Regions from separate parts of the Homo sapiens genome. Here all the other regions are linked to region 3. The links come from fine-mapping of genetic effects on gene expression. A gene starts in region 3. Each other region holds a variant in brackets. All regions are shown on one strand. Distances are between the middles of the regions. Region 1 holds the start of LOC105375980 (a long non-coding RNA gene). Region 2 has its middle 32 kb from the start of FREM1. Region 3 holds the start of FREM1 (FRAS1 related extracellular matrix 1). Region 4 overlaps FREM1 (FRAS1 related extracellular matrix 1). Region 5 overlaps FREM1 (FRAS1 related extracellular matrix 1). Region 6 has its middle 100 kb from the start of FREM1.

The links.
Region 1: its variant is fine-mapped to the expression of FREM1 in prefrontal cortex (ROSMAP, PIP 0.95).
Region 2: its variant is fine-mapped to the expression of FREM1 in ovary (GTEx, PIP above 0.99).
Region 4: its variant is fine-mapped to the expression of FREM1 in lung (TOPMed, PIP 0.95).
Region 5: its variant is fine-mapped to the expression of FREM1 in cerebellum (GTEx, PIP above 0.99). The same link has a PIP of 0.9 or more in amygdala, anterior cingulate cortex, caudate, cerebellar hemisphere, cerebral cortex and hypothalamus.
Region 6: its variant is fine-mapped to the expression of FREM1 in spinal cord (GTEx, PIP 0.94).

Annotation. Positions count from the first base shown.
Region 1 is chr9:14,989,415-14,994,492 of GRCh38, reverse strand. It overlaps LOC105375980 (a long non-coding RNA gene), which reads left to right and starts at 1,298. Exons shown (of 5, transcript XR_929491.3): 1 at 1,298-1,344; 2 at 1,739-1,964; 3 at 4,148-4,265. It also overlaps the pseudogene LOC389705. The variant C/A (reference allele first, on the strand shown) is at 2,707.
Region 2 is chr9:14,939,684-14,944,761 of GRCh38, reverse strand. No RefSeq gene overlaps it. Among named protein-coding and RNA genes, the nearest start is that of FREM1, 32 kb to the right of the region's middle. The variant G/A (reference allele first, on the strand shown) is at 3,088.
Region 3 is chr9:14,907,367-14,912,444 of GRCh38, reverse strand. FREM1 (FRAS1 related extracellular matrix 1) reads left to right here and starts at 2,017. Exons shown (of 37, transcript NM_001379081.2): 1 at 2,017-2,531. RefSeq lists enhancers at 3,252-3,753, 4,703-5,078.
Region 4 is chr9:14,861,609-14,866,686 of GRCh38, reverse strand. FREM1 (FRAS1 related extracellular matrix 1) reads left to right here. Exons shown (of 37, transcript NM_001379081.2): 3 at 2,784-2,878. Among named protein-coding and RNA genes, the nearest start is that of FREM1, 46 kb to the left of the region's middle. The variant A/T (reference allele first, on the strand shown) is at 3,159.
Region 5 is chr9:14,844,999-14,850,076 of GRCh38, reverse strand. FREM1 (FRAS1 related extracellular matrix 1) reads left to right here. Exons shown (of 37, transcript NM_001379081.2): 7 at 1,304-1,412; 8 at 3,986-4,117. Among named protein-coding and RNA genes, the nearest start is that of FREM1, 63 kb to the left of the region's middle. The variant A/G (reference allele first, on the strand shown) is at 2,900.
Region 6 is chr9:15,012,884-15,017,961 of GRCh38, reverse strand. It overlaps the pseudogene LOC389705. Among named protein-coding and RNA genes, the nearest start is that of FREM1, 100 kb to the right of the region's middle. The variant C/T (reference allele first, on the strand shown) is at 1,918.

The DNA of each region.
Region 1 (5,078 bases), 82 kb before region 3:
TTCTGCTATTGTATTTCTAGTTAAGCACCTCACGCCACCAAAGCAGTTCTTCACTGAACCTTCAAAGAGAATTTTTTCAGCTCTGCCTTAACTCACATACTAGTTCAGCATCTCCATATCCCTAACAACTAGAATTTAGGACAGCTGTCCCCTTCAGAGGCTGCATTTCTCCTTTACCCTGGTATTCCTAGAATGCATGACCCAATATGAAGAATGCCTATACAACTGGCCCTTTACTAGTTAATTAAGCCCTCCAAGAATGTCTCACACCCTATCCGATTTATAACACTGCCAGACTAAGTTTTCTAAAACTTTAGTTATCACAATGGCACTTCCTTCCTGTCTGATTCCCCTTATTGCTACTGTAGTGGTTACAGAACTTCCGAAATCGTAGTAAAATATGAGATAATGCACATACTTTTCCCCCCTCCCCTCTCATAGTGCTTTTATGATCAGGTCCCTCTTACTTTCCCATTTCTCTGGCTCCAGCCAAGCCGAACGCTCCACTATGCCCAAACATCTCCTACACTTTTACGTCTCAGACTCTTCTCTGCCTTCAAAACCCATTTTCAAAGAGTTGTCTTAAAAGTCTTCTTTAACACCCCCTGGGACTTGTTAAATCCTCCTTCAGTGTTTCCATAGCACTTTCTACACACCAGCATTATAATCCCAAACAAAAAAGTCACAGTAGAATGCATATTCGCTTGTGCCCCTCCTCCCCAGGCCGGAGGCTCTACATGGAGAAGGGGCAGGCGGGTTGACCCCAAATCCGCAGGGCCCCGCACAATGTCTGGTATGTAATCGGTTCCCAATCTATCTGGGTGGGCGAATGAATGAAACGTTGGTTGGCTTAATCCGTTTCCCCAGGAAATGCGCCAAGAGGAGCTGGGCAGAAAATGCAGAGGCGCTACTTTCCTGGTCCAATCCCCTACAGAGCGCGAAACAGCGACCTGGGCAGGGTCCCCGCAGCAAACCGCAGACCCCGGACACACAGCAAGCTTAATAGTCACTGCATGAATGAAACGCGCTGCCTCCTGGTACCCTGGCTGTCATCCAAAGCCACCTGCGTAGCCCCCACAGCCTTTCTGGCAGTATCTGCGGCCCCGCCCCCGCGCCGGGCCTGCGCTTCCAGCCACCGCCCACCATTCTGCAGCTGCAGCGCCAGCCGAATTCCCGGATCCGCGGCCGCTTCCGAGAGCAGCCAACTGCTTCCGGGTTCAAAAGCCTCCAATGCGAATCCCAGCGCCGCTCGGGCGCGCCAATTTAGGGAAAAGGCTCCGCCCATGCCCCGCCCCCTGAGACCTGGCGCCGGGCGCTTTGAGGCCCGGCTTACTCCCTTGCTGGGTATGGGGAAGGGGCGTCTTCTGTCCTTGTGGTCCGCTTCTAGGCTTTTTGGAGCATCTTCCAGGGTCACTCCAGAGACCCCCCCAGACTACTGAATCTGAATCCGTTAGGGTGGTCCAACCTTCCTCTTCAGGTGTCTACTAGAGGCAAGGTTGGATGTATGCGGCTGCCCTCAGTACAGCCCCTTCCTTGTTTTTTCTTCATTTGTGTTTACTTAAAACATTAATCCTTTTCTCCCTCTCCTCCATCCCTCTCCCTCCCCTACTATACAGTTATTGACTTACACTAATTCATTCCCGATGATCTCCCAGAAGGAAATAAGTGTCTGTCTGTCTCTGTCTCTGTACCATCGTCTTCTTGGTACAGTTCGGACTATTTTTTCTCTACACCCCAGTTATGCAAAGTGTAGTCCCTGAACCAGCAGCCTCAGCATCCTGAGGGAATTTGTTAAAAACGCGAAATCTCAAGCCCTACCCAGACTTACTGAATCAGTGTCTGCATTGCAACAAGATCCCCTGGTAATTCCTATGCACATCAAAATTTGGAAGGCACAGCTCTCAACTGATGTCCTGGGTCTCCTTCACATCCATCCTGGGAAGGTCTTATTCCTCATTCCTGAGGTGAGTTCCCTATTTCCTGAGTCTGTGTCTTTTTCTTGATTATATAGCCTCATGTTGTGGAACATATCCGCCAATAGTTCCTTGAGGGAGGTTGCTTCCAGGTCTTTTTTCCCACAGAGCGTGCAGGTCTGGAACTGTTTTTATTCTGGCTGAGTTCTAGGTTGAAAATAACTTTCACTCGGAATATTGGAGGGCTTGCTCCACAATATTTTAGCTTCCAAAATTGTTGAGAAACTCTACGTCATTGCATTTCCTTCTCCTTCTCAGGTCACTAAATTTCTTGTTATGTAACCCGCTTTGGTTTCGGTTTTGTTTTGTCTCAAGAAGCTTTAGGATCTTCTCTTTATACCCAGCGTTCTAAGACACAATCGAGTGTCTTTCTTATGGGTCTTTTCTCATTCCTATTGATCAGTTTTTCAATCCTGAAACACATGTTCTTCCGTTATGGGGATTCTCCTGGTATTATTTATTTGATCGTTTCTTTCCGCCCTCTCTTATTTTATCTCTTATTTTTTGAAATTTGTTATTTAGATCGTGGACCTTCTTGGCTGATGTTTTTTCTTACCTGTCTGTCCTATTTTCTATCCCTTCATCTTTTTATTCTACTTTCTCTGTGACTTTTTCAACTTAATTGGACAAATGATTATCAGATTACTTTATTTCTTTTATTATACCTTCATTTCTAAGTGCCCTTTTTATTCTCTGTTCTTTTATAGCATTACATTATTGTTTCATGAATATA[C/A]CTCCTTTACTCTCTGAAGATGTAAATTATAGGAGTTTTAAAATACTTTCTACATAACTCTGCATTGATTTTGATTCTTTGAGTTTTTTTTGGTTGTTTGTTTGTTTATATTTGGTCCCTGTCGTTTCTGCTAGAGGCGTTCTTCATCTTGTGTAGTGATCCCTGCTGTCAATTTATATGTAAAAGTGATGCTCTAAAAAGGTGCTTTGGGGACATAGGCAAGGCTTGTTCACTGCTGGACAAGGTGTAAGATGGTGGGGCAAGGTGTAAGATGGTGGGGCAAGGTGTAAGATGGTGGGACAAGGTGTAAGATGGTGGGGCAAGGACCAGCTGTTTATTTTCTTCTAGAGAGTAATCTTCTAATTACTTGCTTTGAGAATATATAGCCTTCTTGGAGCCCAATGCGGGAAAGAGTTTGGGAGACTTAGTAATTTCATTATATGCACTGATGCCCTGTGTTAGTTGGGGTTCTCCAGAGAAACAGAGAATGAATAGATATCTATATCTATACCTATATCTCTATCTATCTATTAGCTCATGTGATTATGGGGGTTGAGAAGCCCCACAATCTGCTGTCTGTAAGCTGAAGACCCAGAAAGCCCATGTTGTAGTTTAAAGCCCTGATAACTGGAGATGGTGTAGATTCCAGTCCGAGTTTGGAGTCCTGCAAACCAGGATCACCGAGGGCAGGAAAAGATCAAAAATTCAGTTCAAGAAGTCTAGCAGAGAGAAAGTGAATCCTCCCTTCCTCTACCTTTTTGTTTTATTCAGACCCGAAATGGATGATGCCCACCCACATTGGTGAGGGTAATCTCTTTTACTCAGGGCCCTCACAGACACTCAGAAATATTGTTTAACCAGATATCTGGGCATCCTGTGGTCCAGTCAAGTTGACACATAAAATTAACTCTCCACCGAGCATGGTGACTCATGCCTGTAATCTCGGCACTTTGGGAGGCCAAGGAGGGTGGATCACTTGAGGTCGGGAGTTTGAGACCAGCCTGGCCAACATGGTGAAACCCAGTCTTTACTTAAAACACAAAAATTAGCCAGGCTTGGTAGCACGTGCCTGTAGTCCCAGCTACTCGGGAGGCTAAGGTACAAGAATCACTTGAACCTGGGAGGTGGAGGTTACAGTGAGCTGAGATTGCACCACTGCACTCCAGCCTGGGTGACAGAGTGAGACTCTGTCTAAAAAAAAAAAAAAAAGACCTAATTATCATGCATACCTTCACTTACAGCACTGTTTCATAATAGCATTTTTACCTTCAGCTGTGTCTGGTGTCCCTGAATCCATATCCTGGTTCCATATCTCCCAAAAGAAATAATCTTGCAGGTTTCAGGTTGGGAATGAGGGTTAGAGAAAGTTTCCCTGACTTTGCCAGGGGAGGAAATCTAGGAGTCTTAACTGCTTCTGGGACTTTTAATGGTCTCTTTTCAGCTCATCCCACTGAAGAGCTATGGCACTTCCAATTCCTGAGCCTTTGTGAGGTTCTGCGTGTCAGTAAGCTTGCTTCCGGGCATCACCTCCGAAAACACTTGGGTTTCAGTTTTCTCTGGTAAGTCCGTATGTTCACCAGTACATTAGCTCCCTAAAGCTGCCATACAATTACCACAAACTGGGTGGCTTAAAACTATGGAAATTTATTCCCTTACAGTTATGGAGGCTAGAAATCAGAAATCAGGAGGTTGGTTCCTTCTGGGGTCTCTGAGGGACAATCTGTGCCATGCCTTTGCCTTAGCTTCTGGTGACTGCTGGCAATTCTTGGCATTCCTTGGCTTGCAGATGAATCACTCCACTCTCTGCCTCTGTCATTACGTGTTCTCCCTGTGCATCTGCCTGTGTCTAACTTTCTCTCTTTTTGTAAGGACGGCAGTCATTAGATTAGGGCCCATGCTAATCAAGTATCACTTTTATGGTTTTATTATTTTTTTTATTTTTATTTTTTTGAGACGGAGTCTCGCTCTGTCGCTCAGGCTGGAGTGCAGTGGTGCCATCTCAGCTGACTGCAACCTCTGCCTCCCAGGTTCAAGCAATTCTCCTGCCTCAGCCTCCTGAGTAGCTGGGACTGCAGGCGCACACCACCATGCTCAGCTAATTTTTGTGTTTTTAGTAGAGACAGGGTTTCACCATGTTGGTCAGTCTGGTCTTGAACTCCTGACCTCAAGCGATCCACCCACTTTGGCCTCCCATAGTGCTGGGATTACAGGCGTGAGCCACCACACCCGGCCGTCACTTTATCTTATTTTGATCACATCCGCACAGACCCTATTTCCAAATAAGGTCACAGTCAATGTATCCTTTGGGAGGATGCAACTCAACCCTCGTCAACTGATTTCTAAACTTTTGTGGCATTTTTCTGTTGTCTCTT
Region 2 (5,078 bases), 32 kb before region 3:
AGTTGTATTGCTTTAAACCTTCATAATCATCACTTAGTGGCTGAATTATATTTCATTTTGGGGGGGGGCATATCATAATTTACTTAATCATTGTCATAAGGTTAGGCATTTGTGCTGTTTTCACTTCTGTTGAGTAATTGATACTTGGATGGGAGCAGTTAATACACACTTAGAAGGAAGTGGCCCTATTTATAGATCATAAGTTTTTCTCAGATAAACCTCAATTCTGTTCTTGGCTCAGACACTAGTTTTGTGGTCTTGGGTAAGCTTCTATGTATTTGTCTATATCTATCTATCTATCTATCTATCTATCTATCTATCTATCTATCTACCTATCTATCTATCTAGCTAGCTAATCTATCATCTTTTGCGACAGAGTCTCACTCTGTCACTTAGGCTGGAGTGTAGTAGTGCGATCATAGCCCACTCCAGCCATGAAATCTTGGGCTCAAGTGATGCTCCCACCTTAGACTCTTGTGTAACTGGGACTACAGACACATATCACCATACCTGACTAATTTTTTCTTATTTTTTGTAGAGATGGGGTTTCACTATGTTGCCCAAGCTGGTCTCAAACTCCTTGGCTCAAATTATCTTCCTGCCTTGGCCTCCCAAAGTGTTGGGATTACAGTAGGCATGAGCCACCTTACCCACTCACTTATTTTTCAATTATAGAACTTGATTGAGGCCTCATTTACGTATAGTAAAATGCACAGATCTTAAATGTATAAGTCAGTAAGTTTTTATGTTCCTATATGCCAATATGACCATCTACATCCCCCTCCCCTAATTTGAGCCATTATTCTGATTTCTAGCACTATGACTTAATTTTGTATTTAAAAAATATATAAATGGAATCACTTAATGTGTACTATTTTGTATCTAACTTCTTTTGTTCAATAAAATTTTTGAATTTTTGAAATTCACCCATGTTGGGCCAAGCATGGTGGCTCATGCCTGTAATCCCAGCAGTTTGGGAGGCTGAGGTGGGTGGATCACCTGAGGCCAGGAGTTTGAGACCAGCCTGGCCAACATGACGAAACCCCGTCTCTACTAAAAATACAAAAATTAGCTGGATGTGGTGCACACCTGTAGTCCCCGCTACCTGGGAGGCTGAGGCAGGAGAATTGCTGGAACCTGGGAAGCGGAAGTTGCAGTGACCCGAGATCGCACCATGGCACTCCGGCCTGAGTGACAGAGCAAGACACCATCTCAAAAAGAAAGAAAATAAAAAAAAAAAGAAACTCACCCATGTTGTTTTATATATAAGTTTAGAAGTTTGTTGTATATGGTTATACCAATTTGTTTATTCTTTCTTCTGCTAATGCACATTTGTTTTGTTTCTATGTCGTGGCTATTACGAATAGAGTTGCTATGACTATTTTGCATAAGTCTTTTTGCAGATATATGCACTCTGATATAGTTTGAATGTTTGTCCTCTCCAAATTGCATGTTGAATGTAATCCCCAATGTTGAAAGTGGGGCCTGGTGGGAGGTGTTTGGGTGATGAGGGCAGGTACCTCACAAATAGCTTGGTGCTGTCCTTGTGATAGTGAGTGAGTTCTTATGAGATTTGATTGTTTAAAAGTATGTGGCACCTCCCTTCGTCTTGTTCCTGCTCTAGCCATGTGAGACGTCTGCTCCCCTTTCACCATCTTCCATGATTGGAAGCTTCCTGAGGCCCTTACCAGAAACAGATGCTGGCACTGTGCTTTGTTTACAGCCTGCAGAACCATGAGCCAAATAAACCTATTTTCTGTATAAATTACCCAGTCTCAGGTTTTTTTTTAATGGCAAACCAAAAATAGCCTAATATACAATTCTCTTGGTTGTATTATCCAGGAGTGAAATTGCTTTATTTTAAAGAAAGTATAGTTGGTGAAGTTGATAAATATGAACCAATGTTATATAATCACAGTACTGAATGGGATTAAAAAAATGCCAATAATTGACTTGGATAAATTTTTTAATCTCTCTAAGCCTTCATTTCATCAACTCTTAAATAAACCGAAACTATCCTGAAGAGTTGCTGTGAAGAATAAAATATGTAAGGAGTATAAAGTACCTACCATAGAATCTGGGGCATAATCAGGTGTTTATTAAATGGGAGCTACGATGATGAGGATGATGATGATAATGATGGGAACAATGGTGACATAATTTCTTTATCTGCACTGATAGGTAGATTTGTTGAGTTAAAATCCAGAGCTGATCTCTTTCTCTTATCCTTGAAAGATACTCTGAAAACATCCATGAAGTCCTGTGCCTCTTGTACATTTGCTAGACCTGCGGTTCTCAACAGGATCTTAGCATCCCACCCCTGAGATTCTGATTTAATTTCTAAGGATGGGGCCCAAACATCTGCTTGCTTTAAATGTTCCTCTGGTGATGTTAATTACGGTCGGGACTGAAATCCACTGCCTAGCAGACGAATGATGTATGCCTCATCTCCCCAGCCTTCACCGTTTTTCAGTTTTCCGAAGTAGCAGATTTGTTGCATAACTTCTTCATTCCTCTCTATGCTGAAAACCTCACTCGAGCCACTCCTGAGACTCCCAGACAGCCTCTGAGATTTATGTCTTACTGGTGAGCTCTCTCCTTTCCCTCCTTCTTATTTCTCTTGAGAATCTCAAGTCATGGATTTTAGAGGGTGTGTCTCTCTTCCCCACTTGCAGCTTGGGTTCAGTATGAAGCATCATTCATCTCAAATGTCACCTTATCAATGTTTTCTACTTACTTCTCCTTTTGTTTTTACTTTTTCATTTAAAATAAACACAAATAGGGTAAACTCCTCTAGCCTTTGGCAGGTGGCAGCCTGCATGCTTGGCTGCTCCCACCTTCCAGGTGCAGATTCTCCTGGCAGACTGTGGAAAGCTGTTGTGACTTAAGGAACAGCTGGGTTTTCTTCTATTTCTTTCATTTAAAAAAATTTACTTCATTTTTCCTCTTAATTATCAAAGTAATATCTGAATACTCTGGCAGGAAATTTTGGGAGTCACATAGAAAAGTGCAAAGAACAACAAAAATTATGTTGTGCAATTTTCTCTTTATATGGTAATATCCAGTTTCAGCTCCAGCAATTCCTAC[G/A]TGAATGGCCCTGGGTTATTCTTCTTTGAGCCAGTTGCTTCATATGCTCAAGAGGGATGATAGCAAAAACCTAATAGAAAAATTGGCAAATGTTCTTCTATGAGAAAAATATTTTTCTACTAGAGATTTATTATAAAATAAGAGACATGAGGGATAACTCACCAAAAAAGATTGAAATGGCCATTAAACACATACAAAATGTTTAATTTTAATCATATACAAAATGTTTAATGTTATGAGAAAAGTGCAAACTAATGGCAAAAAATTAAAAAGCTTGACAATATACTTTTTCAGGGAGGCAGGAAAAAAACAGGCAAGTCCACATATTGCTAGTGAAAGCACAAAATGGTACATCCGTATGGAGTGGAATGTGGCAATGCCTAATCAGACCACAGTGTGTTTACATTTTGGTACAATAATCCCACTTCAAGGAATTTACTCTGAAGATAGATCTCAACAATATAAAAATATATATGCACAAGGTTATTCAATGTAGTATTATTTATAATTTTAAAGTATTAGAAATGACCTAAATCCCCAAATATAGGACATTTTTATTGAATAAGGTATGGAACATCCACATCATGAAAAACTGCAAAAATATCTCCAGTCTGGGTGCAGTGGCTTATGCCTATAATCCCAGCACTTTGGGAGGTCGAGGCAGGTAGATCACTTGTGCTCAGGAGTTCGAGACCAGCCTCGGCAACATGGCAAGACCGTTTCTCTACAAAAAATTTAAAAATTTACTGGGTATGGTGGCATGCACCTGTAGTCCCAGCTACTCAGGAGGCTGAGGTAGGAGGATTACCTGAGCCCAGGAGGCCAAAGATGGAGTAAAACATGATTAAGCCACTACACTCCAGCCTGGTGACAGAGGGAGATTCTTAAAAAATCTCCATAAACAAAGATGAAATAATTTACTGCGAAAAAAGCAAAAGGCATAGGAGTACATAGAGTATGCTATATGTCCTGTAAGAAACGAAAGTGATAATATACATCTCAGGAAGGATGAATCGGAAACTAACGAGATTGATTACCTGCAGGAGATGGATAGGAACAAGGCAAAAGTGAAGTTTTGACTTTTGGCATCATGCTCATGTTTTTCACTCTGAAAAAAATTAGATCAACAAGGGTGTAGGGGAAAAACCCTAAAATGGAATACAAACAGAAGTAGATCAACCTAACCTTTAAATGAATAACATGACCATACTGAACAGTGAAAAAGAACAAACTCATAGAACTTTGGCTATTGTCCACTAAAAGACAAAGCTGAACTATATATATTAGGTTTGATTTCCACAATGTATGGGTTAGCTATTCTGAAATTACTTTCTGTGTATGGTAGGACTGAGCAAATGAGTAAATATATTGATTATGCTGACAACCAGATTTTCATAGTTTGAGAACAAGGATACCAATAAAAAACAGGAAGGCTGTGAGGAACACTGTAGTGTTTGGTGTTGGATTGTAATTAGAGGTATTAGTATGAATATCTGTATATCTATATACACACATATGTGTATATATGCTTGTCCACTTATAGATGTATATATGCACATTAACACTATTATAGGTGTATACAGATACATCTATATGTATCTATGGACACACACACATTCCCTAACTGCCTGCTAAAAAGACTTAGAAGCAAACAACAATACCAACAATGCACTTTTGCTTACAAATATCATGCCCCATTAAAAATAGATAGTGGTGCTAGAATTCATGACTGATTCCAGGGCCAGGGAAGAGAAAAACCAAGATAAGCCTGGAACATATTCTTGGCTAAAAAGTAAAGATGTACTTAAAAAACAATGGGAGTTTGTATTAGGGATCTTCAGAGAAACAGAACCAATAGGATGAATGGGTCAATAAAAAACAAGAGACGTGTTATGAAAAAATGGCTCATGCAATAATGAAGGTCTTGGCAAGTCTCAAGATCTATGTGGCGAGCTGGAGACCTGGAAGAGCTGATGGTATAGTTTCCATGT
Region 3 (5,078 bases):
CAATCTGTTCAAACAGTATTTTATTGATTGAAGTTGATAATTGTATTATTTCCAGGCCCTTATTCATTTGTGGCAGATAGAAGGAATGACATTTGTATAAACAGGTACTTCAGATTTCAGGACATTTTGACTGATCTAACTCTTAACTGCCTATTTCAGAATATGTTCAGCACAGTTAGGCCAAGCTTCATGTATATAATTAACTTTGGAAAGATTATATCTCCTGCGGACTTTTTGAAATACTTTACAATCTAAGTTTGTTATTTTTTGCTTAGCATGCTTAAGTTATTTTTCCCATAGAAGTGATATAAAGACATTTATCTCTGTTTCTAGACTAATCTGTAAACCTTATTTAGCTCTTAATCTATCTATAAACTTTATAATCTATCTATAAACTAATCTATAAACCTTATTAGTTTCTAGACTAATCTATAAACCTTATTTAGATGTTAGAATAAGCATGTTGATGCAACCGTTTGTACATAGTATACAATTCCTTTGTCAAATGGAATCCGAGTCTCAACTAACAGCTTCTAAAACCATCTTCATTTCTTTGCAGGTAAGATATTCACAACCTGGGCAATTTTGAAAATCAGTTGGGGAATAAAATTGTCTATTATGCTGTGTTTCTTAACTGTCATTATTAAGGCTTTATTTCTTGCCTTTTCAGGATTAATATATGACTCACACATTGTCACTATATTTATTTAATAATAACTGTGTTTAGTAAATAATATCTGTTCACTTATAAAGAGCTTAGTGATTCTTAACTTTCACCTACTTATTCTCAGAGCAAATAAAATGAATCAAGAAATTCTTGAAGATTTGAAATCTCCGATGACTTTGAGTAAGTGTATATGCACCATTCATTGCTAAAGTAACCACAAAGCATGTTTTTAAAATACATAATTTTTTTCTCCCTTCTTATGCATTCTTTTCTTCTTTACATTTTTCTCTTTTCTTTCTTCCTTCCTCATGTAATTTTCTTCTCCTTTTTCATTTTCCTCTCTCTTTTCCTTATGGCTTCCAAAGAAAGGCATATGGTGTTGTGACCTTGTTACGGGAAACCACATCTAGGTTGAATTGGATTCACAGTGTTCTATATTTTTGGCAAAGGTTTAGGATAGCCAGACATGTCTTAATATAAACAGTTCCCCCAAAGTGAGTTAATACTTCAAATTCTCTCTTTATGGTTAATTTAGAAGGCCAGATGGTAGGCCATTATCTTTTTTTTTCCTGGTGGGAATAAAATACAGGAAAGCATTTTATTAAACAGTTGTTAAGGATTAAGACTTTCACAGACCACTGAATACTGACAAGTTAACTATGTGAATCTCTGTTGAGAGGACAGTTCTTGGCCAGTGATATATCTGCATTATTGGGATCACGCACTATATGCAAATGGATCAGATTAATGGGATTTTTATGGGTTTTCGAAAAGAGCCAGACACACAAAAAGCCTTACAAATGGAAGAACTAAGGTGGTACTTAAAAACAGCACCTTAGGATCTAGTTCCATCCTATCTTTTCCCTTAAATGCCATGACAAAAGTTAAAACGGGCCCTGTCCCTTCTGAATGCTGGGCTTCTCATCTAAATTTAAATAAAAACCTTTGAAGATGGGAATGTGTTGGAAGAAAAGAAGGGCAGAAAAAAAGTGTGTTGGAAGAGTCTGTGTGAGTATGTACATGTGTGGGTGTGGGCATGTGCGGCCTGTGCGTATGTGTGTGCCCCCGTGTGTGTGTGGAGCATGCGTGAGAATGCATGCACATGTGTGGGGTGGGTCACTATGTGTGCATGCATGTGAAGGCATTTGCCTGTGTATGTGTCTGTGTGTGGTGATTGTGTGTCTATCGTGTTTGTATGTGTGCCTGTGTGTGTACCTCTGTGAGTGGGTGTGTCTGTATGTGACTGTGTGCCCATTTGTGAATGTGTGTGTGCCTGTGTCTGAGTGTGTGTGTGCCTGTGTGCTGCAGGCGGGAGAGGCTGCTCTGGCTCGGCGAGTGGCGGAGCAGTTAGTACAAAACTAGTAGTGAGAAAGGAAGCTGGGAAGAGACTGGGAAGAGGCAACCGACCTCATTAACAAAAGCTCAGTTTTGTCCCTGCGGACCCAACCAGCAGAAGGCACGGGGCTAGCGGTGGCTGTCCGCCAGGGAGGTCGGGCTCTGTGTAAACAGTAGAAGGCATCTTTATCATGCCCTTCTCACAGGGAGTCCTGAGGCTTGGCGCTCAGGAAGTTTGCAAAGCTGCAGCAGCTGCCTTGGAGAAGACCAGCAAAGAAAGTGGAGTGTGTATGTGAACTTCAATTCTGTATTTTCTGTGAGGTGGGTTAATGGATTTTTAGTAAAAAGAAATCTCAAACACAGCTGACCTGAAAGACTGGAATTTCAGCTCTCTTCCTTCCCGGGGTTCTTTTTCCTCCCCCTTCCTCTCAAAGCCCTTTAAACCAGATTGCTGTGTCAGTGACTCTTATCCTGCCCGCCAGTTCCAAGGGTTTCTAACTTTTTGTCTTGGAAAGGAAAACCACTACCTGTAAGTATCTGTTTTATGTGTTTCTTTTCATTGTGACTGTGAATGTTCTGTTAGCAGAATGCCCCAGAGATTGTTTGTGTGATATCATTAATGCCAAGTAACAATGCAAAGCATCTGCAAGAGTAGGCTTGCAAAAGTTTAACTCTCCTGTTAACTCAGAAGATGGCAACTTGCAGTGTTAACAAACCAAATGCCAAAACTGAGATTCTTTTTATTACGTGACACAAATTTCTAACTCTTCTCAGTCCATCCGTGCTGGCACTTGCCAATGAAATAACCATTTTTTAACTGTGTAATTGTTTCCTCTGAAATTAGAATGTTTCTTCTCAGCTAAATGAAATGGCAAAGGGAAAAGACACAAAAATGAACAGAACAGATAATATCCTCATGGTACAAACATAGAGAAATTTGGATGAGATAATGTCTGGATACCTTTGCTTAAGTTTAGTTATATTTGGAGACATATTTTCAAAAACATGATTTCTGTTTCATTGTGGGGAAGAGAGATAGTGCTGGGGAGGCAAAGAAATGGCCTTGTTCTGAAGTTTTTGGACTGATTTTTAGGCTCTCTCTGCTCAGTACTGAGATTTGGTCCAGAGACTTTGGTGCTGTTGTAAAGAGTTTCTTTTCATTTTATTTTGAAATCCAGGAAACAATTTTTGGCTTATGGAAATTGTTTATTGTTTTTAAGGTATTTAATTTTAGTTTCTGATTTTTTTTTAAACTATTGCACCCAGTCTTGTTGCTTGGTGTGCATTACAAAGCTTAAAAAGAGCATTTCTGGGAGCCAATTGGTGTTTATAGCCTGGGAATCTTACTGGAGAGATTAACCTCTGTGGTGCTGCTTCACAGAACAGAGCTAGTGATTCGAATGCTCTTCAGGTTTCTGCTCTGGAAAACTGACACCCGCTGTTCCTGACTCTAGGTAAAGCTTGAAGAGCTGTGCCTCAGCCCCCTGCTTACATTTGATAAAGGTGCCTTCAGTGCAGCTCTAGGAAACTTTGCTGTTTCTCTCCATCAGGCATTCTCAAAACTGACTGTGTGTAAGAACCCCCATTTGCTTGGTGAAAGGCAGGTTCTCAGTTCCCAGGCCCAAAGGATTTTAGACCTGGAGTGGTGCCAGGAATCTTCCCAGGTGATTCTGAAGCAGGTGGGTCACACTTGGGTAAACATTGCTCTACATTGTCCTTGACATGAAATTCTTGTCATGTACTTGGTTAATATTAAACCTTATATCTAAATAAGAAACCTGAGTTTGAGCTGTTGTTGAGCATAACTTAATGTGCAACATGGTTTTGCATGCTTGGCTGGCAAACCAGGGCTTTTTAATCAGTTTTCCACCAACCTCATCTTTTTTTTTTCTTGCTTCCCTTTTCATCTCTGCCTTTTCATTCCCACGAGGGAAAAAAGGAGTTGGGCAAAGGGACCTGACTACCATGTTCCCTGCTTTCACATGTTGGGCTATATGGCCTGATCTGCCCCCGCATGGCTAAGCAATGTTTGTTTTGGAAACTTTAAACCCAGGACTGTTCTTAATTCTTTCCCAGCCTCCTGGGGCTGCTGGGCTGTAGGGGTTGGGCGAGGCTGAGTTTGGGTAAACTGAGCTTGATTTCATGGAATGGTTCAGGAGCCTCATTCCTAGAAAATGATTTTTGGATTGGACCATCCCACAGGGATGAGAAGAAACAGAAAATGATTCTTCCATGGTGTTAAAATTCTCATTTCACAATATGTGAAAGTCAGAGCTCAGCTTCCATCCCCATCCTTGCATTTTCTGGCGTTTAATATTTATATTAAAAAGAAAACTGGACATGGCCATCAGAGCCCCTTGCTTTCTTTTCTTTCCTCATTCCAAACATTTAGGTGCACCTGCTACATGCCAGGCTCTGTGATAGTTTTTAAGGATTTCAGAATGCCCACTGGGGATGGCATGCACAGGCAGGGTCCTTGTCCTCATGGTGTTTCAAATCTTAGTTGTTGCTAACCAGCCTTGGAAGAGCCATCTAACCCCTCAAAGCTTCACTTCCTCATCAGTAAAATAAGTTGAATTAAATGAGTTTTGGTATCTTCCTAGCTCTGATATTCTGACATTGATGGATATGACTCAGTCTTCTAAACACAGATATGGGCTATGAGAGCTTTTCAGCATTTACTCTGAGAATAGGCCTAAAGATTTCGCTAATTGCTTTTCTTCAAAAATTTTCAGATGTATTTTTTTCTCTCACAAAGCACCATGACCACAGGAATATTGAGTTAGACAAGTGTAATCTTTTCAGGGCATGTAGCCATTCCTTACAATGGGATCCCGTAACTCCCTGGAAAGGCTGTTTCCCTGCGCCAGGTTACATAGGAGGGCAGCCTCTTATCTTGTCTGAATCTGATGTCGCTACTCCTTTGGAGAGCTGGGTGGTCTGAACAGGGCTTGACAGCTTCCACACATGCACAGCTTGCAACCTGACCCTTTCATTCAAGTGATTCAACAGCTTTTGTGCTACCAGGTGAGAGGCTTAAACAGACATCTTTGAGGGGCCGAGCGAAACAAAAAAC
Region 4 (5,078 bases), 46 kb after region 3:
CAACATTTATTTAGAAGTGGGCCTGAGTATATTGTGAAAAAGAGAAGAAGGAAAATTCCCACTGGTAGCTCGCAGGAGCAAGCTGTCTAAGCTGTCTTCCAGTTTGGACCTCAAGCATGCATGCCCAACTGAGCAAAACAAAAGCCCTGCAGATGACCAGATTCTCCTTAGTAGGCAATTTGGAGATAATCTATTGTTACCTAAGCCAGCCTCTGAGAGCTCTCCTCTCCCTACCTCAAATGGCCTATGACTCCTTACCGTATATGGCAGTCTCTCTGAGAGAAATAAAATTGTCCCCATTATATATCTTTAGTGATGTTTTAATGGTCCTGATTGCTTGGCCTGCTCCAAGGCACTGAGGAGCAAAAAGGGATCCAAGTGACTAGAACTAGGTAAAAAACATTTGTTCACAAGAATCAAGGATTGGAATAGGCCTGCAAGTCATCTCCATCTCACACTCTCTGATTTTAAGGTAAAACTCCAGTTACTAGAAAGACAGTATAGAGGAGAAACCACAAATTGCCTTGGTTGCTGAGAAACACCTCTGAATATACTGATTCCCTAGCCTGCTATTGCTCATTAAGAAAAAGTAGAATCAAGTCATGAATACTTAGTGTATGTATTTCCAGAGGCAAATATGACATCTCAAATGGATTTATAGCCTCTAAAGTCGGTATGGGATTTATATCTTCTAATATTTATTCTGTGGTAAAGGAGTTCATTAAAATATGGAGTTTCAGTACTTTTTTTGGCCAAATATTAAAACTGTGTGTGAGAGAAATCTATATCATGGGAGAACTTTGTTTCTCAAACTGCCAGGTGATTGTTCCTATTTGTTATTCTCATAATTTCAACAAAAACAAGATTCCTAAGTCTGTTTTGTTTTGTTGAATTTGTGCTTGGTTTTTAACGCAGGCTGGTTCAGTCCTTCCCTAGGGGTTCGTTCCTTATGGAGTTTTAGAAATTAAGCATAGCTAAGTGCATGTGCACACACACACACACACACACACACACACACACACACAGCCTAAACATTATTCTTTAATAGAGCTTAGTAATAAGCTGAAAGCCAAGCTTATGTGAACCCATTTCTAGCAAGACGACTGTATTAACAACACCCTGCTGTGTAATGAACAGTTTCATGTGACTTGCACAGAAAATGTTTTGTTTAACATCTGTTCAATTAGTGTTTTCATTTCATTACTGAAGTTTGTCTTAGGATCAACAGGTTCATTTTCCTGTTGAATATTTGGAAAGGGATTTCAGTTGATGCACACCAGTGCCTTCTGTTCAGATAACCCTCTTGATATAGTCAATTAGATGAGGTTGATGGCAATATGTTTTCCTCATGTTTTAGGACAAGACTCCCTCACACATGGCACTTCTCACACCTAGCCCAAAGCAAGAAATTTGCTGGGTGGAAAGCACCCCAGGTTAGCACTAAACTTGCTTTTTTGAATAGGAAATATAGCGGTAAGAAAGTATCTCTACTTTGAACCATTTTACTGTCATTAAAGTGAGTAATGAGCTAGGAATGTGTGACAATTTAATTATAAATTGTAATTGAAAAGCAGTTGAAGTGGAAAAAAACAAAGCTAGACAGTAATTAGAAAAGGATTTAGCTCTCCTTTGTTTTAGTTAGTAAATTTATGGACAATTATGGTTGTCGCCTTTTATAAAAGGAAAACATATTATGAAACATAAAACAGATGTTTCTTTTAACAAAGCAGACTGTCTCTTTATTACCATGACTATTTGTCAATGATATGGGGAAGGTCTTTGCTTTATCTCCTTCCTAGTTGTCAATTTAAAAGAGGAATCAATGATATCTGCGGGAAAAGAAAATCGTTTGTATTAGTGGTAAAGTCTTCTCTGAGTGAATTATGTTGTCTGAAAATGTTTGAGGCTGTGAAAAGGTACAGACGAAACACCACGAACACAATGGTGGACATGCGTGCATACCTCAAGGGTATTAGAACTCTACCAGAGTCAGATTGGGCAGAATGAAGGGCATGATATGGGTGGGAGAGATGATTCTTCCTCTAAAAATCAGGTTCCCAAAATATAACAGTTAACAATCTCCTAATAATTCTGAGTGAGTTGAGACAGTTCATTATAATTTTATTTGAATAGAGGAAATTGCTTTTAGATTTCTGTTTTTCTCATCTGCCATTTCTGCTATTGCCTAACTAATGAAAGCAGTTTTTTGCAAGTATGCAAGACACAACTCTGGGTCATGTTAGGCTCTGATTAACCACAGTAGTGTCCATAGTCAGTGGCTTCATCTTTGAATATGAGAATACTATTCGGAAAAAAAAAGAAATGAAAGGAGAACACAGATATACAGAAAGAATACAGTGTGTTTGTGGGTGGGTTAAAGCATGCCTTTTCATGCAGACACACAGAAAGAACTCTCTAACTCAATTGCTGTGAACCCCTGAAAGGGGTAAATAAAATTTCGAAAAATGAAAGTATGTTTTAAATGCACTCTAGGTGGTAAAAAGACACTTATTTAGAGACGTAATCATCCCTTAACTAATTTTCTTGAACTGCTTTGGTTTTCACAACTTAGATATTCTCAAAACAAGAGACAGCTGTATAAGTAGGATGGTGACTGGGTATGGGGGTAGGGTAGAGGTGGTGGTGGTGAAGACACACACACTCACACACATACACACATTACTAACAGAGCATATTTTCTCCAGGCAGTGCTCTCCTGGCAAAATGTTAAATCTTGTACCAATTTTCTCATAGATATTTATCCAATTCTTCATGTGAACTAGGTCTTTGACTGCCATTTCCTTCCCAACGAAGTCAAGTATGTTCACAATGGTTGTCCAATTCTTGATGAAGACACAGTGAAGCTCAGACTTTACAGGTAAGCGGCACGGGAACATCGCTCATTTGCTGCCAAGTAACCATTCTGTGTTCTTATGAGGGCTTTTCTTGTGGATATGTATTGTCATGAGGGGAGTTAATAGATTCCAGACAAGAAAGTAATCAACAGAAACTGGAGGCCTGAGTGGATCAGGCAAGATTTGTAGCCAACTTTCAGTTATTTCCACTTGTGTCATCTTCCCTAGGATTCTTCTGTGGCAAATTTTTAGCCGTATCCTGTTTCCCTCTAGTGTCCTTATATAGGTATCTCTGGTGTTCCA[A/T]CCCACCACTTATGGTAGAAAATGGAAATTATAAACTACAAATTCTTAATGAAAATCAGGGAGAAAATATATTCCAAAAATGAATGAAATTCTTCTTTTTTGTTACCAGCTGTTTAGTTACAGAAAGTGCAATATCTTCCATTTTTAAACATATTAAATATTTAAAATTCCTTTTTTTTTTTTTTTTTGAGACGGAGTCTTGCTCTGTCACCCAGGCTGGAGTGCAGTGGCGCAATCTCGGCTCACTGCAACCTCTGTCTCCCAGGTTCAAGCTATTCTCCTGCCTCAGCCTCCTGAGTAGCTGGGACTACAGGCGCCCACCACTACGCCCGGCTAATTTGTTGTATTTTTAGTAGAGGTAGGGTTTCACCGTGTTAGCCAGGATGGTCTTGATCTCCTGACCACATGATCTGCCTGTCTCCGCCTCCCAAAGTGCTGGGATTACAGGGATGTGCCACCATGACTGGCCTAAAATTCTTTAAAAATCAACTATGGAGTTAAACATGGAATGACCGTAGGAGACAGCAGTTCTTCTCCTACGCATATATATAAGAAAAATGAAAACTTATGTTTTACATAAGAACTTGCACTTAAAGTTCAATGCAACATTATTCATAACAGCCAAAAAATGGAATAAATCCAACTGATGAATGGATAAACAATATGTGGTATATTCATGGAATGGAATATCATTCAGCCATAAAAAAACAACGAAGCACTGATAAAGGCTACAGCATGAATGAACCTTGAAAACATTATGCCAAGTAAAAGAAGCCAGGCACAAAGTGTCACATATTGTATTGTTCCATTTGTATGAAATGTCTAGAACTGGCAAATTCACAGAGACGGAGAGTAGATTAGTGGTTGCCAGAGGCTGGGGAAGGGAAATATGTCTCTTTTGGGGTTGATGAAAGTCTTCTGGAATTAGGTAGTCATGATGGTTGTACAACCTTGGGACTACACTAAAAAACTCTGAGTTGTATATTTTTAAAAGATGAACTTTGTGGTATATGAATTATATCCCAGTGAAAATTAATTTTAAATTTAAGCTCACGATTATGGTATATCTGACTTCATAAAAGTCACTGAGAACTGATGTATGTGGAGTAGGCCTTTATAGGGTTTTTTATTTGGTTTTTATTGCTTTTAAGAATATTTGGTTAGATATGTTGGTGTGAATTTCCTTTAAGCATTAGACTAATGTAAAAGACTTTTGTACAAGACATTGGAACAGTGAACCATTCTACAAACATTTATGACCACCTATTACAGGCCAGGCTGTACGTTGAGCATAATCAACAAAAGGATGAGAATACACAGATTATTTTAGTGCTTGTAGTCTAAGGCAAAAGATGAGCAGGTAATTATGATGCAGAACAAGCGCCAAAAGAGAGTCACAAAATGCTGTGTTGAGAAAATGAAGCGGCACTCAAGGATTCCTTAGGAAGATATGAAATCAGCATACAGGGCCATTTGATCTTTCTAAGACTTTAGAGTTAAAAAACAAATAACTTCAAAGAACTTGCGCGGAGCGGGTGGGAAGGGTAGTGGGGAGTTGCAGGGAACATGGGGATGGTTAATGAGTACAAACAGTAGTTAGAATGGGTAAGACCTAGTATTTGATAGCACAACAGGGTGACTACCGTCAGTAACAATTCAATGGCACATTTTAAAATAACTATAAGATTATAATTGGATTGTTTGTAACAAAAAGGTTAAGAGGGCCAGGCGCAGTGGCTCATGCCTCTAATCCCAGCACTTTGGGAGGCTAAGGTGGGCAGATCACCTGAGGTCAGGAGTTTGAGACCAGCCTGGTCAACATGGCAAAACCCCATCTCTACTAAAAATACAAAAATTAGCTGGGAGTGGTGGCAGGCACCTGTAGTCCCAGCTATTCGGGAGGCTAAGGCAGGAGAATCT
Region 5 (5,078 bases), 62 kb after region 3:
ATTAAGGAAAATGATCGTCCCTGGGGTTATCTCTATTGTAATTTCGGCATTTTCAGCATGTAGCCTCAAGGGAAGACAAAGGACTTCAGGCTATAAACGCTATGCTTTGCCTTCTGCTTTTATTTCCCCCTTTTCATCATAGTCTGTGGCCCCCCATGCCTTCCCTGTTAGGAAGTAATTTCTCATTGCACATCCAATCTTAGAGCACTGCTTTTCTGGCCTCTTCCTGTGTGTAGTTTCTGGCATTGTATAATGTACTCTTAAAGCAGAACCTGTGCGAATGTGTGATTTTTTTCGTTAGACAGTAACTCTCAATTTTTTCAGTGGAGATCACACAGTTTTCAGGTTGTGTGGACTGGAAGCCCTGGGCCAGGGCCCAACCGAATGCATTACCCCTCCAAAAAAGACACCTCCTGCCCATGTAGTTTCCTGTTCAGTCTGTTGCTTTGGCAGCCTTGAATCAGTTTCTTTTGTTATTTAGTGTTTGCTGATATAGTGCTGTTTGATTATTTATCTTATCCTCTTCCATGGACCACATGTTCTTCAAAAGTAGGGAGTATGCCTTGCATTTCTGTGTTATACCTCATTCTTCTCTGTCAACATCTGGTGCAATACATACACAGCACATAATAAAGATCAAAACTTATCACGCAGCCCCTACTTACTTATTAGTTATGAATTTCATGAAAGCAAATAAAGTTGAGATATTTAAAAATATGTCTAGTGAAATACATGTCTCTAGATCAGGGTTTCTTGATAGTAGCAGTACGACAATTGCCATTTTGTATCAGATAATTCTTTGTTTGGGAGGTTGTCCTGTGTACGGTAGGATGTTAGTATCCTGGCCTCTACCCACTCGATGACAATAGCATTTTCCCACACACCGACTTCTGAAATTAAAAATGCCTCCAGACATTCCCAAAAGTCCTGTAGTGGGACAACATCACCCCTAGTTGAAAACCACTTCTCTAGATCCTCCACCTTTGAGAAAGATTTAAGTGACTGAATGTGGGAAGGGGTTGGTCTCCTAAGCAAGTGCAGAGACACTTCTCCAGCATATTACCAATTTTAGATTAATAAATTCTTTTATGTAGAAGAAAATTTAAAAATACCGTTAAAGTAAGGAACAAGATCTAGAACCTGAAAAAGTCAAATCAGGATGTCTAAATGAGATGTGGGAACTGCAGAAATGTGAATCCCCGCAGAAAACTGAATCCACTGTGTGTGGGTATAACCCAGAATTAATGCTACTTTACCCTGTAACGCTTCAGTGTGTGGCTCCTTTGCCTCTGTTTGTTTACAGGTAGAATTGGAGGTATACGACTTCTTCTTTGAAAGGAGTGCACCTATGACAGTCCACATCTCCATCAGAACAGCAGATACAAATGCCCCCCGTGTATCCTGGAATACAGGTAAAGCTCAATATAAGGCATAGAGCAACATAGCCCTGAAGGGAATACAAGAAAGTAGATGGGTCAGGAAAGAAAGGTAGTTTTATTCCTATGTCATACATGTGGCAACTGAAACCCAGACAGATTAAGGGCATCACATAGTAGCTTTTGTTGTTGTTTTTTTATTCCTCCTGGCAGCGTGAGAAATTTAAATCCAGGATTTCTGCGTCCTGAGGCCAAGTTCTTTCCTCTGCCGGAGATAAGACAAAGGGACACTTTTCAACTGAATGAAGCAAAAAACTGACTATTTGTGATATTGAGCTGTAGTGGGACTGAAATCTCCAACTCAAATTGTTCCAAGGGATTGGAGAAAGGTTTAGCTTTTATAATCTATAGTCTATTTTTATGTTGGGCTGCATGGAAACTAAAATATGTAAATAAGAGCTTTAACTGCTTTAAAATATGGCTTTCTATGCCTCTCAATTCTGAGTGGACTTATGTGATATATATATGTATATGTTGATCAGATGTAAATGTGGAATGTAAATGGAGATCTTTTCCTTCTCACTGATCCCATCAATACCATTTGAAACATACTTATAAGCAGTGGTGGTAGATAGTATTAAGGAAAAAATATCTGTGTCTGATTTAAATCCTCAGGTGGCAGCTTAAACGAGCTGCCTCGTGTGTGTACACATAGATATGTGTTTGTATGTGTGTGAGTTTCAGCAGAGATAGAGAACATCAGGTGAGCAGCCTTGATTTATAATTCTGGCTATACATCCTACTGTACCTCTGTCAAGGGGGTAATGAGAGAAAAGATGGAATCAGTAACCTAAAGTTTAGGAATAATCACATGTTGCATGGGCTCCTGCCTGAGTGTAGAGATGGAATAGTCTGTACGTGTATGTGTGATCGGTGACACCCAGGTTTGCTCAATGTCATTTTGGCTGCTTTGAACATCAGAATCCCTTTTAAAATAAATGTTTGCTTATTATGAACTTGATCTGTGCCATCGTTGAAATTTGGAGAATGCATCTAAAATTATTATTTCGCCGTGAAGATATAACCAATGTTAATATTTTGCTGTATATATTTCTAGGCTTCTCGATTGTTCCTCTGCTGTGCTCCGTGATGCCTTGTCCTATGCACTCCTGGCTTCCAAACCCTTATTGCCAGTCACAGAGATTCTTCTTATGCACTTCTGTCCATTTCTTCTCCCTCCCACCCTCCCTCCCTCCCTCCCTCCCTCCCTCCCTTCCTTCCTTCCTTCCTTCCTTCCTTCTTTTTCTCTCTCCCTCTCCTTTATATATGTATTAGCCCAATTTCCCTAGAAAACAGACCCCGAGGCAGATCAGATGTACTAACCCTATACTAAAAGCAAGAGTAAGGGGAGAAGCAAATAAAAACGCATGGCTGAGCTGGTGTCACAGCTTTACAATAAGATAAAGCAGATTGCTCTGCAGTGTTGATGTCTCCAGGGAGAAGATGCAACTGCTGTGTCTGGT[A/G]AGAGTTGGAAGTGGGGTTGGGAAAAGGTCAACAATCTATTAATGGTCAGTTATTTCCCATCTCCTGTGTTTAATGGGTTAAAGTTTACTTCACTGGCTGTTAACTCCCCACATGCCCAGATTGTGTTATCTGGCCCCTCTTAGCAGCCATTGCACACACTTCCTGGGTCCCCTGGTGCAGGGCCTGATCAGCCACAAGGTTGGTCCTGCCGCCACTAGAGGGCAGTGGAGGTAGCCGGCTGCATCAGAAGATGAGGCAGTGGTGGCAGGAGGGCTTTACAATTTTGGAGACTGGGAACCCTCATGGGGCGGCTGCAGCTAGAGAACAGTCAGTTGGTCGAGGCCGGGATGGCAGGTGAAGCTGGCAGATGTGAGAGAAGCATAAGATAAGTCCAGCAGCACGCTACCTTGCAATTCGACCAGCTTGCTCTGCTCCCTTTCAGGATTATCTGTAATCTGTTGTAATATTGGAGTTAATAGTACTAAAAATAAAAATAGTACTAAAAATAAAAGCTACATTCCAGTTTCTTGAAAAGCTTTTATAGATGCAATATTCAGATGGTTTCATGAGTGGAAATTCACTCATCTTTTCTTAAGCAGGCACGTTGGCATGTCATAGAACTTGCCAATACCCTTTTCTTATCTTTTTTTAAAAAATTTAAGTTCTGGGGTATATGTGCTGAACGTGTAGGTTTGTTACATAGGTATACATGTGCCATGGTGGTTTGCTGCATCTATCAACCTGTCATCTAGGTTTTAAGCCCCTCATGCATTAGATATTTGTCCTAATGCTCTTTCTCCCCTTTCCCCTCTACCCCCGAACAGGCTCTGGTGTGTGATGTTCCCCTCCCTGTGTCCATGTGTTCTCATTGTTCAGCTCCCACTTATGAGTGAGAGCATGTGGTGTTTGGTTTTCTGTTCCTGTGTTAGTTTGCTGAGGATGATGGTTTCCAGTTTCATCCATGTCCCTGCAAAGGGCATGAACTCATTATTTTTTATGGCTGCATAGTATTCCATGGTGTATATGTGCCTCATTTTCTTTATCCAGTCTATGATACCAACACCCTTTTCTCCTTTCTTTCATAGGTCTGAGTCTCCTTGAGGGGCAGTCTCGAGCCATCACTTGGGAACAGTTTCAGGTTGTCGACAATGACGACATTGGTGCTGTCCGGCTAGTCACCGTTGGTGGCCTGCAGCATGGATGGCTGACTTTAAGAGGTGAATGATCCAACTTGGTAACCTAGCAAAGAATCCAAAAGTATTTTCTTCAAAAGTAGATATATTTAACAGATATATGTAGCATCTCTTGGGCCCAATTTCTCAATGAAATTGTCAAATGCAGAAAATCTGGAGATCTTGAAATCATTGACTTTTGTGTTCAAATGCTCAGATCAATGTCTAACCATTTATGAATGGTACCTTGTACGTGGCTCATTGTTTAAACCTCAGTTTTGCTTTCTGGATGCCATGCATGGCTTCTTGTAAGTATACTCCTTAACTAGTTATTTTTTTCCCAGTTGGAGGACAGAATGTTTTTTATTTCTCTGCTTCAAAGAAGTATATTGAAAAATTAGGCCGAGCGCAGTGGCTCACGCCTGTAATCCCAACATTTTGGGAGGCCAAGGTGGGTGGATCACCTGAGGTCAGGAGTTCAAGACCAGCCTGACCAATATGGTAAAACTCCGTCTCTACTGAAAATACAAAAATTAGCCGGGCATGGTGGCGGGCGCCTGTAGTCCCAACTACTTGGGAGGCTGAGACAGGAGAATTGCTTGAACCTGGGCGGCAGAGGTTGCAGTGAGCCAAGATCACGCCACTGCACTCCAGCCTGGGTGACAAAGCAAGATTCCATCTCAAAAAAAAGAAAAAAGAAAAAGAAAAATTAATGCTTAATTAATACTTTAGTAATAATGATGTTATGTTATTAGTAGTAGTTGTCATGGTTTAAAAGAAATAAATTTATAATTCTATGGGATGATAGTTAACAAGGTAATAATCTAATAAAAGTAATATTTACACTTTATGATAAAATAAGTCATTCCTTATAATGAACTCAGAGGATTTAATTCAATTATCTTCTTAGTTTCCCTAACTGTAATGCAGAAAGATAACTCTCACCATCATTTGTGAGCAGGGAATTCTGGAATCAAAAACAAAATAATAAATGTATGATAAATCC
Region 6 (5,078 bases), 110 kb before region 3:
TAATTTAAAGTATATTTTTCATCTAAGAATTCAAGCACAATAACAAATACCCCCACCACAGTCGAAATGAAATGGAGCCTAAGGTGTATGCACACACCCCCATACTTAGCCCCAAATGTATACACACAGCAAGAAGGCATATCCCTATAATGTGTCTAATACATAAATTCACTTTAATATAAGCCTGAATGCAAATAATCTTGGCTATTCACCTTTGCTAGAATGTAAGATGAATTTCACAGGTTTTTAGGACATCTGCTTTTAAAAAAAATCACTTCAAAAAGTTCATTTTGAAATACAAGCTGAATCCCTATCTTACCTCTGCTGGAATTTGGGGGTATAAATGTGCATGTATTCATGTGTGTATGTGTCAGGGGGAGAGGAGGGAGGTGTGGTGGGGGGTGGCAAGTGGAGGTTTTTTTTTTTTTACTCACATGTGAGCCATAGCAAAAGAGGTCCATTCCCAACTCAAGCCCCATACCATAATCACATTCATCATTAGCAAACTGCACAAAAGTCATCATTTCCTGAATGGGAGCAAAAGCTTTTCGTCTCTCATCATCACTTGCAGCCTCAACTATTGTCTTGCAAATTCTCTTGAGGTCAGCTGAAAGAAATCAATAATATAGAAGATTATCTACACAGTTAGAAAATGAATCAGTCTTCAGAGGTAAAGAAACTACAAAGAGGGTTTTTCCTCCTAAGACTTTTTGTACTAGTACAACTTGTGCCACCTCGGGTAGTAATCTGCAGCACTGTAATTTAGAATGGCAATTTGGTAATTTTTCTACATAGGATTCAAGCTTAAAAATGGCTTAAAGATTTCTTAGCGACTATTTCACAGGATTTAGTCTTTTTTAAAAATTTTTAAATTTTATTTATTTATTTATTTATTTTTTTGAGATGGAGTCTCGCTGTCTCCAGGCTGGAGTGCAGAGGCGCAATCTTGGCTCACTGCAACCTCTGCCTCCCGGGTTCAAGGGATTTTCCTGCTTCAGCCTCCCAAGCAGCTGGGATTACAGGTGCGTACCACCATTTTCAGGGGATTTTTGTATTTTTAGTAGAGACAGGGTTTCACCATGTTGGCCAGGATGGCCTTGATCTCTTGACCTCATGATCCACCCTCCTCGGCCTCCCAAAGTGCTGGGATTACAGGCATGAGCCACCGCGCCCGGCTACAGTCATGATTTTTTTTGAAAGTCTATTCCATGGTGGCAATCATGATTTTACATAAGCTTTAAAGATTCAGCAGACAGGTCCAGGAATTGGCAAACTTGGGCCAAACCTGGCTCACCCCATTTTTAACTACCCTCAAACTAAATATTTTTTCATTTTTAAATGGTTGAAAAATAAAACAAGAATGTGATAGATTATGTAGCCCACAAAGTGTAAAACATTTACTATCTGGCCCTACATAGAAAGTTTGCCAGCCTGGTCCATGCACTATATAGTTGCCTCTGAATCTGAGAGTTCTACATCCTTAGATTAAACCAACTGCAGATTGAAATACTCAGGAAAAAAATTAAAAAATACAGATTTAAAAAAATACAGTATAACAACTATTTACACAGTGTCTATGTTATATTAGGTATTCTAAGTAATCTAGAAATGATTTGAAATATACAGGAGGATGTGCATAAGTTATGCAAATACTACACCAACTTACATAAGGGACTCGAGCATCAGATTCTGGGTATCCTTCAAGGTCCTGATACTAAGAGACAGCTGGGTTAAAAAAAGATCCAAGTAGGCAAAATTTGTTCTTTTTGCCCTGTCCTACCTTATTTGTTAGAAAATTACTGACTTGTGGTGAATTAAAACAGAAAAAGACAACAATGTAAGAGACAAGGAATCACTGCAGAATTAAACCTTTAAAACCTTCACCAAAGTGGGAGAAGAGTAGCCATGGCAAGCATG[C/T]GTTTGAGGTAAGAATAGAGAGACAATGTCTAATATTTGCCTGAAGAATATATTTTTAAAAGTTAAATTTCAATTTTGGCTTTTAAGATTTTTTTCATTCTTTCTGGATGTTAATGTGCATCAGATTTCAGGATGCAAATGAGATGGAAGTGTCAACAATGTCTAATTAGACTTCCTTTTGACAAATTACATGTCCTTTTTGACAAACTGTACTTCTTTGAGAATAATAATGAAAAGAATGGATATTATTCAAACAAACCAACAAAACACTTCCAAACAGCTGGCTGCTATACTGGGGGAGAGGAAGACTGGTTAAAACATTAACAATTATACTCAAGAATGATACGTGATTTTAAATTATATGTATGAGGTACAATGTTCTGATGATACTAACAAAAAATATAAGGTATAATAATACCAAGGATGGGCTGTGTGCAGTGGCTTATGCCAGTAATCCTAACATGGGAGGATTTGGGAGGCTGAGGTGGGAGGATCGCTTGAACCCAGGAATTTGAGACCAGCCTGGGCAACGTGGCGAGACCCTGTCTCTAGAAAAAATAGAGAAATTAGCTGGACATGGTGGTGGGCACCTGTGGTCTCAGCTACTTGGGAGGCTGAGTGCTGGAGGTCCAGGCTGCAGTGAGCCGTGATCATGCCTTTGCACTCCAGCCTGGGTGACAGAGTAAGATCCTGTCTCAAAAAAAAAAAAATGATTACCAAGGATGGTATTATAAAAATATACTATATACTAGGGCTTTTAACCCCAGTCTATGAATATCATTTGATTCAATCTTGATGACAGTACAGAATACATGCTGTTACCCGAGTCACAAAATGTGTTTTCTTCCCTTTCCCACTTTTGGTAGATCAGTATCATGTTGAACGAATGGCAAACTTCACCACCTATGTTTCTAACTATCTCTAAACAGTAGTGACGTTTTTTATTGGTTTGAAACCTTTTAAAAATTAAATTGTTTTACATAAGCTTCATGACCTTCCTTTCTTCAGAAAAGTCAGTGCTGATCATTTCAAGGAAACAGATGAGGCTTTCTCCAAAAAGCTCCTTAAGGATGGAAAATAAGTGGTTCCTCCCTGCACCCATGGGTGTAACTGATTGATTGGGACCCTTAGAATCTCTCTCACAGTGCCCCAGGCAGCCACTACAAATCAGGGTGGGTATGGAAGTGAAGACCTATTTGTCTTCTGTTAGCAAATAATTTAAAGTTTATCACTTTCCAGTATCACAGTTTCCATTTTTACACATGCCAAGTCACATGTGGACTAAAAAGAATAAGCAACTTATGTGAATTACTAAGCTAGAAAAACACTGAAGAACAGAGATGAAAATATTCAGCTCACCATCAGTACAAGGAAAAATATGTTCTTCCAGCCATAAAATATTCTATAGAAATTTCAATTAACCGAAGCCCAAACTTAAAGAACGTAAGTGAAGCCTTAAATTAACTATTCAAAAATGAAGCCTTAAATGTTTCTACTCGAGATACTCAATTAATGAGTTAGGAGTTTCACTGCTGAATTCTTACTATATCCCTGCCACTACTATCAACTAGAATACTTAAATTAAGCTACAGTGGTTGTGTCAAGGTAAAAATCAGGCAACTAGGCAGGCAACTCTTCTTACTTCAGATAGTAGTATGCACTCTACAGTCAGAAAACCAAGTATGAAAACCAGTGCCCTCAGCCGGGCATGGTGGCTCACGCCTGTAATCCCAGCACTTTGGGAAGCCAAGATAGGTGGATCACTTGAGGTCAGGAGTTCGAGACCAGTCTGATCAAGATGGTGAAACCCTGTCTCTTCTAAAAATACAAAAATTAGCTGGGCATGGTGTGGGAGGCTGTAATCCCAGCTTCTCAGGAGGCTGAGGCAGGAGAATCACGTGAACCCAGGAGGCGGAGGTTGCAGTGAGCTGAGACCCTGCCATTGCACTCCAGCCTACAAGAGTGAGACTCCATCTCAAAAAAAAAAAGAAAACCAGCCCCTTACTGACTAATGCTGAGCATGCTGGGTCTATTTCCTTTGTGAACATGGGAATAAGACCTACTTTAAAGAGTTGGGTGAGAATTAAATATGTGTACATCACTTGTTATAGTGAATCATGACACTGACATTTAAGAATTGCTCAATAAAAGGTATCTTATTTGCTAAGTTACAGTGTTATTGTAAGAAGCTTCAAAGGGTTAAGAACAAACTTAGTTGTGATTTACTAATCACTGTCACATTAACAAACTGCCAGTCAATTGTACCTCCTGGGAAACGACACTAGTCAAGAACAAGATTAGGTCCTTCATTCTTACATTTTGCTACTGCTTCAAAACTAAATACAGAAGGATCTAATTCCTAGAATATTAGACTTGGACATAAAACCCCAGAAACACAACTACAGTAGGGTAACAGGCTTTACTCCAGGGCACTACAATTTAACATCCATCACCCCAAAAGTTTTAGAGACTGCCCATCTCTACAACAAATGTGCCCAACCTTTCCCAAATGACACAATAATCATGCTTTTTAAAGTTCTCTCTGTGAGCAGAGACATGAAAAGAAGATGACTTAGAGTAGAAGCAGAAGACTGACCAGTAGCTAGAGCCCACACTGGTCCCATCAGAGACTAATTGCCTCTGGCTTCAAAGAGGAGATATAGGACAGATCAGCCTGTCCAAGTGTAATATAATACAGGCTACATTTTTTCCAGTATCCACATGAAAAAAGAAACAGCTGGGGCAGGGAGGAGGAGCTAAAAAAAAAAAAAAACAGGTGAAATTAAGGTATTGTATTTAACCCATATTCCCAAAATAGTATTATGTCAACATATAATCAATACAAGAAACATTTAATCCTGTTTTAATTTACATACTTAAACTAATTAAAATTATACAAAATTACACGCCAGGTACAGTGGCTCACGCCTGTAATCCCAACACTTTGGGAAGCTGAGGTGGGTGGATCACTTGAGCCCAGGAGTTTGAGACCAGCATGGGCAACAGAGTGAGACCTTGTCTCTACATGGAAAACAAAACAAAAAACACCAATTAGCTAGGCATTGTGGTACAGACCTGTAGTCCCACCTACTCAGGAGGCCGAGACGGGATAATTGCGCCACTGCACTCTATCCTGGGTGACAGAGTGAGACCCTGTCTCT